Linked DNA regions of Homo sapiens: region 2 is reported to be linked to region 1. The links are microRNA targets in miRTarBase. Many come from high-throughput screens and were not tested one by one. Region 1 holds a microRNA gene; the other region holds the end of a gene's coding sequence.

Region 1 (4,148 bases):
GGAAGCAAGGCAGCCAAACCAGCCATGTGGAAGTCCGCACACAAGACGCAAAAAAATTGTTTAACGTAATTATGCTTTTTTCTCTCTAAACTAGATCATATATAGACACAGACCAAAGCAAAGTGATCTGGGGTATAATTCTTTTTTTAAAAAAATACATGCAGCTAAATTTTAAAAACCAATACAATATTCTGGCTCTTAACAATTTCAAAAGGCTTTCTTTCAGCTACAGATGCTTCTAGCTGGATGTCTGCATGACCAAGTTGCCCATCACAAATGGGTTGAACATCTCCGAGCACAAGCGTTCTCTTCGGTCCGCAGGGGGGAGGAAATGGGGCCTCCAGGGACGGGGACACATGACCCTTCAGACCCTGAAAGAGGCAGCCCCGAGGGGCCTCCAGCGCCCTCTAGAGCACCCTGCGCTTGGGGAGGCTGGGAGGACCTGGGATCAAGAAGAAGCAGGGAGGACACAGGCCAGGCCAGAGCCCAGAGCCGTTTCTCACAGCCCTCCGGGGCCTACACGCCAAGAACCACGTGGCCAAACTTAGAATGAGCAAGACAAAGGGCTAGGCCACCCGACCAGGCGCCCACCTACCCGGGTGCTGCCTAGACCTGGAAGTAAGGGCAGAAGGGGGAGAATGCAGCTGGCCTGGACCTGGCCAGGATGTGAGCTGGGGCATGGGGTCAGGGAGAGTGCTGACCTGACCTGATGGGGAATTTGGCCTTGCCTCCCGGAGGGGACAGCCCCAGCCTGCCTGTGCACCAACATGCAAGCCTCAGTGTCAGGGGCCCCTGTCTCTGTCGTGCTGTTACTTGCCAGGCTGGAGGGCACGGTACAGTGGAGGTGGGGTGCACACAATCCCCCTACCCCCAGTGGGGGCCACCAGCCTTCAGCCAGAAGAGGGGCTGGTGGGGAGGCTGGCGAGCTGTCCCTTCTGCCAGGGCGGCCCCAGCCTCAGCGCCCCGTGCACCTGAGCCGGGTGGGCAGCAGCTCCCATGCAGGGGCAGGAAGACAAGCTTGATAACCACAGGGACAGCAGAAGAGATATTTTTAAATCACCCATCGCTCAGGCAAGTGCTTTTTCTCCTTCTCTTTCCAGTTACAAATCTAGAGGAGAAAAAAGAAAGGGAGAAAAAGAAGGAAGGGCAACAGAGAGAAAAGGGCAGCCTCGCCAAAGGCCCAGGCAGGGAGGGAAGCGGGTGTGGGCCAACCCGGGAAGTGCTGGGGAGACCCCTCCACTGGGCGGCTCCCCCATTCCAATCTCCTGGCGCTGCAAATGCTGGAAGCCCGTTAGCAATTAAGCAATTTCAAGTTTGTTTTTTTCTAGAAAATGTACGTTTTTCTTTGAGTGCCCTCCCTTTTTCCGACGTTTTCCTTTCTAGCCCCGTCTCTGCCATCCGTTTTAATCCACACACTAATTGTAATCCCATTAAAGCAGATATAATTTTATTAGTATTCACAGTTCATCAAGCTACCAATAATAACTGTTACTGCCAATTTTGTTTTTAAAAGCGACAAACATTTCTGATGTTTAGAACAAACTGTAAACAAAAGCCACCCATGTACCAGGGTGACCCGGCGGGTCCCTAGCGCAGCCCTGCGCGCTTCCCCCGAATCTACCCGCGCCGCCTGGTGACCTCTAGGGCTTCAGGCGTGGTAGCTGCCCCTACCCTGACCTCCCTCGACACTCATATCAAAGCCACCGGGAAGAGGGCTGCCCTGGAGGCCTGGGCCCGCTCTGCCAAGGACTGATCCTCTCGGGCAGGGAGTCAGAGGGGACCGCCCGAGAGGATCCGTCCCTGCGAGGCCCAGCACGGCGCCCCACGCTCTCCTCTTGGAGCAAATCCGCCTCGCTCTCCTCTTGGAGCAAATCCGCCGCACTCTCGCCTGCACCGAAATCCTGAGCGCCGCCCCGCGCCACCCCCAGCCCGCGCCCGCGCTGCCCTCCTCCCCGGGCCGCAGGCTGAGAGGCTGGGCCGCACTCTGGCCACGCTTTGTCCGGCTTTAGCGGGATACCAGAGGCACTCGTTAAGGCAAATGCATCCCTGCAAACCCATTCTCGCCCTGACACTTTAAGGCTTTATATAGAAACAGGATTTGCTCGTCTTACACCAGCAGTCCCTATTAACGCTCGCCCGGCGCACACACCACTCTAATCCGCGAGGCCGCGGCGTACCCTGGTCCCCTCCCCCCGCCACAACAGCCGTTTTGTTTCCGCAGAAAGCGCCTCGTTGTCCCAGCCCCGGAACGTCTTAGGGAGGTGAATGCAGAATGCAGAAAAGAGGTTTCCGTGGAATTTAGATCTGCAGGAGGGGGCGGGGGAGGGTGGCGAGGCGCGGAAAGGCTTTAATTTCAGCCGGCTCCGGGGCTGCCCCTCCGAGACCCCCGGGGGAGGGTGGCCAGGGAAGGGCCTCTCTAAGCCGCGGCGACGCAGCTTGGGGGGCTGGCGGGACGCGCGGCCCCGCTCAGCGCCCAGGCAGCCACCGCGGCCGGGGCCGGGAAATGAAACCAAAGCTTCTCTGCTCCCGGGAGCGGAGGGGTGGGCGCCCTGTTCCGCTCTCGAACGCTCCCGTCCCGCGCCCGCCCCGGCCGAGCACTGACCTGTGTGCGAAGCCATGGGCAACGGCGACGGGAAGTACTTTCCCGGCTGGAAGTGTGCGGGGGGCTGCGCGGCGGGCCCAGCCGGGGCGAGACGCGCGGCGGCAGCGGCGCTGCGGTGGCCCAGGCTCCCGCGCTCCGACAGCAGATGCGGCGGCGGCGCAAAGTCGCGGCCATCCATGCCGGGCCCCGGCCCCGGTCCGCCGCCGCTTCCTCGGAGCAGCGCGGCCGGGGCCCGGGGGCGGCTCGGCGCGCGGGCGGCGCAGAGGCGGCGGCGTCCGGGGTCACAGGCGGTGGTGGCGGCGGGGCCGGTCAGCACGCGGGAGGACTGGGCTTCTCGGCGGGCGGCCGCGCACCGAGCCAGCGGCCGCTGTGCGGGTCCATGGTCTGTGGAGGCAAAAGCAGAGGAGACACGGGTGACTGGGGGGCTCGGCTCGCCCGGGGGTCCCCGCCCCGCCCGCTCACCCACTCCCCCCACCCCCCACCCCCGCCGGCCCGAGCGAGCGGCGGCCAGGCCGGGTGGCGGGGCCGGGGCGCTCGGTGTCTCCCCGCCGCACGCGCGCGCAGCCCAGCACCCGGGGCCCCGCGCGCGCACGCACCGTCCCGGCCACGCTTGGCCCGGGGCAGCCGGGGGAACCCAGCCGCACTGCTCGCCGCCTCCCGTTCTCGTCCCCGCGGGTCCCTGCAGCTAGGGCGCCGCGGCGAAGAGGCTGCTGGCTCTGCTGGGTGATAAAAACCCAAATCTGCGAAGCCATCACGCACACTCGCACACACACACACACACACACACACTCACACGCACACCCTCTCCCCTCCCCCGCTGCCCAAAGGTGTCTCGGAGGAAAAGGCCTGGGGTCCACACTAGCTCTCCCCCTCTCCCCACCTCATGCCGAGGTCCAGCTTTTACTGCATTCCGCTTAACCGAATAACCATGCTAATTAAGCGAGTAATTTTATTGATTGTAACTCAAGAGTTTTTTTTTTTTTTAATAACCTTCCTTTTCTCCCCACTCCCATCCCCCTCATGCATCTTTCGGCCCATTCTTCTGAATCCACCGTGGTCCCCCCTCCCCAGCCCCAGCGGGACCAGCTCCTGTCCCCAGCATCGCGCTAGGACCCCAGGCCGGCTCCTCAGAGCCCCGGAGGCCCGCAACCGCCACCGGCATCACCTGGGCCGCCACGCCGCAGTGCCCGGCCTGCTGTCCCGGAGCCGGGAGCTTCCTGTTGAGGCTGTAACAATCACCCCGCCCCCCAATCAAATTCGCCCAGGATCTTCCTCTGCGGATTGGGGGCTTGGGGGTGTGTGTGGGGGGGGTGCTTTCAGAGTCAGAATGCTCTCTCTCAACGGCCCAAATCGGCCCTGGGATTTCTTCCTTCAGCGCCTGCCGGGGACCGCGAGCAGAGGCCGGTCTCCGCTCCGGGCAGTACCGGGCGGCCTGGGTACGCGGGGTCTGCGGCGCCCAGCTCGGCCCTCTAGCCGGGGAAGGTGGGCCCGGCCCAGCACAACCTTCTGCCAGCAGACCCTGCCCGGACCTCGGCCACCTAAAATA
Region 2 (4,013 bases), not on the chromosome of region 1:
GGATCACTACTTAGCCCCAGACTTTTACCATGTCTTCAAAAAGATGTGGAAACTGAAGCAGCAAGAGTGCCCTGAATGTGATGTTCTCTCCCTGGGGACCTATAGTGCCAGTCGCAGTTTCTATGGCATGGCTGACAAGGTAGATGTGAAAACTTGGAAATCCACAGAGCACAATATGGGTCTAGCCTTGACCCGGAATGCCTATCAGAAGCTGATCGAGTGCACAGACACTTTCTGTACTTATGATGATTATAACTGGGACTGGACTCTTCAATACTTGACTGTATCTTGTCTTCCAAAATTCTGGAAAGTGCTGGTTCCTCAAATTCCTAGGATCTTTCATGCTGGAGACTGTGGTATGCATCACAAGAAAACCTGTAGACCATCCACTCAGAGTGCCCAAATTGAGTCACTCTTAAATAATAACAAACAATACATGTTTCCAGAAACTCTAACTATCAGTGAAAAGTTTACTGTGGTAGCCATTTCCCCACCTAGAAAAAATGGAGGGTGGGGAGATATTAGGGACCATGAACTCTGTAAAAGTTATAGAAGACTGCAGTGAAAATCACAGTTACAAAAGCGACAGTCTTCTATTTTTGATATTTGTCCAAACAGGACATACAATTGAATAAAAGAGTTTAGGAACTGGTTTCTGCTTTAATACAAAAACAAAATCTTGTAAAAGGTGTCCAAATACATAGTAATCTTTTCCAGTTATGTCTGATTAAGATTTAAAACTGAAGGTTTCATTTTGGGAGTAGGGTTTTAAAGCTCAATCTGTTATCTGCTAAAATTGATTATTGTTGATATGAGAGAAGAGGGGAAATTTTATTTAAATTGCATTTATTAATCTTTTTATCTGAAACTTTGTACACTTTTCCACTTTCAAAACCTATTTTAAGTACAGCAAAATTTATTTAAAACTGTCATAGCAGTAAAAAGTATTACGATGAAATTGTTAGGGTATTAATGGAACAAACCCAGTTTCACTCTCTTGACACACTTATTAGGAAGGGATTGCTTCACTGGTTTAATAATTTAAAAGTTATGTTTGTTAAACACCCTGTCAGAACAGTCATTTTCAGTATTAGATTCCTGTACTATTGTGTTTTGAGTGTGTTTTGGAACCTTCATAGAACACACTTTCTTTTGGAATGTATTTGATTGATAAGAAAGTTTAAACATTGTTTTCACCTCAATGTAGAAATACAGTGGTTTTGTTTTTTTTTTTCTTTTAGTGCTGACAAAATAAAATACTCATTTTTGCATAAAAAGGTTCCTAATCCTTTTGCAGAATAAGTTTTGTTTACTCTTTATACCAAAATTCAGTGAAGGCATTCTACAAGTTTTGAGTTAGCATTACATTTTAATATTTACTATTGCTACATTGTATAATTGAGTTTGAAATAAAACCCAGCTTATGACAATGCATTCCCTGTGCAAGAAACTGTTTGGCTTTCAAATTACCCAGGCATTGAAAATGAATGATAAAAAGTTGCTGTGTAAGGGAAATACAGCCTAAATTGTTTTTGAAAGCCAGAAATGATACAAAGTTCAGTCATGCCAAAGTGAAATACTTTCTAGTGCCAGCTTTAACTTAAATCATACGTTTTAAAAGGACAGATACAGAAAATTATAGGAAACAGGCTTAAATTTTGCTCCATATTTAATGTAGACGTTTATAGAAGTTTCCCTTAATTTGTAATTGCATTCAACCGAGAATTTCTCATAAAAGACTAATTTCTGTGTAAAGATATTACGGGCTGGGTGTGGTGGCTCATGTCTGTAATCCCAGCACTCTGGGAGGTTGAGGCAGGCAGATTGCTTGAACTCAAGAGTTTGAGACCAGCCTGGGCAACATGGCGAAAACCCATCTCTACTAAAAATACAAAAAATTAGCCGGGTGTAGTGGTGCATCTGTAGTCCCAGCTACTTGAGAGGCTGAGGTGGGAGGATCCTTTGAGTCTCGAGGCAGAGGTTGCAGTGAGCCTAGAGCGTGCCACTGCACGCCAGCCTGAGCAACAGAGCAAGGCTCCATCTAAAGAAAAAAAAAAAAAGTTACTTAAACTTGTAACTATTAAATGGCAGTCTCAAAATTATTGCATCAATTTAAGATTCATAGTAGTTTAAGAGCACATATGCTTATCTAAGGTGAGGCAAATAGTTCTCTTGCTTTACGAGCTACCTTTAGACTTACCCACGGCCCAGTCTGGTGCAAGATTTTGCCTGGGGGTTATAAATAAGGGTGAATCAGGAGGCTTTGTACCTATTTCTGGTACTCTGACCTGACATCACTAGTTCAAAGAACTAAAAAATTAGGTTATTTCCAGGACTGAGCTAAGAAGGCCAGAGTGTGAAGTAGTAGCTGTTTTTGAAACAAATAGATCAGCTCCTGGCTTTGGGGTTAGTGATTAAATCAACAAATATTTCCCTTTCTGTATTTCCTTCCTTTCATTTTCTTTGGCTGCCCTAAAATTTTTTGTAAGAAAAAAACCTGTTAGGATCTTCTCTTTGCCTCACATTTTAGGTGTTATAAAGGAAATTGATTATGCAGGAGGCTGAGATGAGAGGATCACTTGAGCCTAAGAGTTTGAATCCAGTCTGGACAACATAGCAAGACCCATCTCTTAAAAAAAAAGAAAGTGATTAGGAAACACTGGCTTTTTTTTGTTTTTCTGTGTAATAATGTAATGAAGGCAATTTTCCTATCAGAGCAAATTGCCAGATTTTAAAAATTCCAGTTTTACTCTTAAATTTCTATAAAACCACAAGATGTTTTAATATTTCAATAACTTCTAAGAAATACTTCAAAATTGAATTTTGAAAATCATTACTAAATAACTAAATCTATTATATATACTTTATGTAACAAAAATATATATAGTTTGTGTGACAAAATATAGAGCTGATGAAAAGTACTACATTTTATCTGGTGAATTTGTATCGTAATTGTTTAGATTAATATTGGTTAGTAAAGTTCTTTCCCCTCTAAGCTCTATTTCAAGCTTAAATATGTCCTACTTAGTGAGACTGAGAAACAGTTTTGAAATTCTACCCCCCACACATGTACTTATAATTCCAGTTAAATGCATTCTTGAGAATTACTTTGTGTGACAAACACAATTAGTGAATATTTTTAAATTTTATTAATGACAAAGCAAAATTTAACACAGAAGTATATATACATAGGTTGTATTAAAACTAAATGTTTTAACTCTCAAATGTTTTAACTCTCAAATAGAAAACATACACATCTATTACAGGAATCACAAAACTTATCTCCATAAGGAAACTTTAAACTCCAGAGGCAAAAAAAAAAAAATTATCTCCAATTTCCCCCATGAGAATCAAAATTGCAATTTTTTAAAAAAAATTGCAAATTTTAATTTTATACTTTAATACCTTTAGTTTTAAGACAACAGTTAACAGAATCAATTTTAGATACAGGTATTTTTTAACCTTAATATTTAAAAGTCCAAAATTATATAGAATTAATCCAAATCATATAGCAAAGAATTCTGAAAACTGAATGCACAATTGGTCACATGATCTTTAATGACCTGCACACTACCATCCTGCATATTGGTTTCTTTTATGCTGTCGAATCCAGGTATATTGTGAACCGTAGTTTTGTTCAGTAATGAAGATAGGTGATCTCCATCTGTTTCTTTCTCTTCAGTTATTACTGACTCGTTTAAGTTATCTTTTTCCTCATTTGAACAAGTAGCACTTTTTTCTTTTATAAATTCAGATTGCATTTTTGACTCAGGTTGCTGAGATTTTCCAAGTATCATTTGAGAAACATCAAGAGACTCTTGTTGAAAGCATGTAACTAAACCAAAGCTATCTATTTGTAGTGCTTTAACTGCTATAGATGAATCAGAATCAGTTGTAGGGGTGTTACAATGTTCTATATATTCCTTTTCAGTTAGATGACTTTCTTCATTTACTCTTTCCTCCTTTCCTTGTAGCTGATCAGAGTTACTACATTCTTGCAACTGTGTCAAGAG

The links. The annotated mature microRNA hsa-miR-4740-5p reads AGGACUGAUCCUCUCGGGCAGG and lies in region 1 at 1,746-1,767, shown strand. An mRNA with a match to its seed (bases 2 to 7 or 8) in the 3' UTR can be bound and repressed. Matches are read on the target gene's strand: a 7mer-m8 pairs with bases 2 to 8, a 7mer-A1 pairs with bases 2 to 7 and ends in A, and an 8mer does both.
Region 2: the mRNA of DNAAF2 is a reported target of hsa-miR-4740-5p. The part of its 3' UTR that is shown has no 7-base or 8-base seed match.

Annotation. Positions count from the first base shown.
Region 1 is chr17:81,398,372-81,402,519 of GRCh38, reverse strand. It overlaps MIR4740 (microRNA 4740), which reads left to right and starts at 1,742; the gene lies at 1,742-1,804. BAHCC1 (BAH domain and coiled-coil containing 1) reads right to left here. Exons shown (of 28, transcript NM_001377448.1): 2 at 2,603-2,986. The coding sequence starts at 2,780. RefSeq lists enhancers at 1-249, 549-728.
Region 2 is chr14:49,622,048-49,626,060 of GRCh38, forward strand. It overlaps DNAAF2 (dynein axonemal assembly factor 2), which reads right to left. Exons shown (of 3, transcript NM_018139.3): 3 at 3,127-4,001. The coding sequence ends at 3,495. It overlaps MGAT2 (alpha-1,6-mannosyl-glycoprotein 2-beta-N-acetylglucosaminyltransferase), which reads left to right. Exons shown (of 1, transcript NM_002408.4): 1 at 1-1,434. The coding sequence ends at 565. Among named protein-coding and RNA genes, the nearest start is that of MGAT2, 3.3 kb to the left of the region's middle.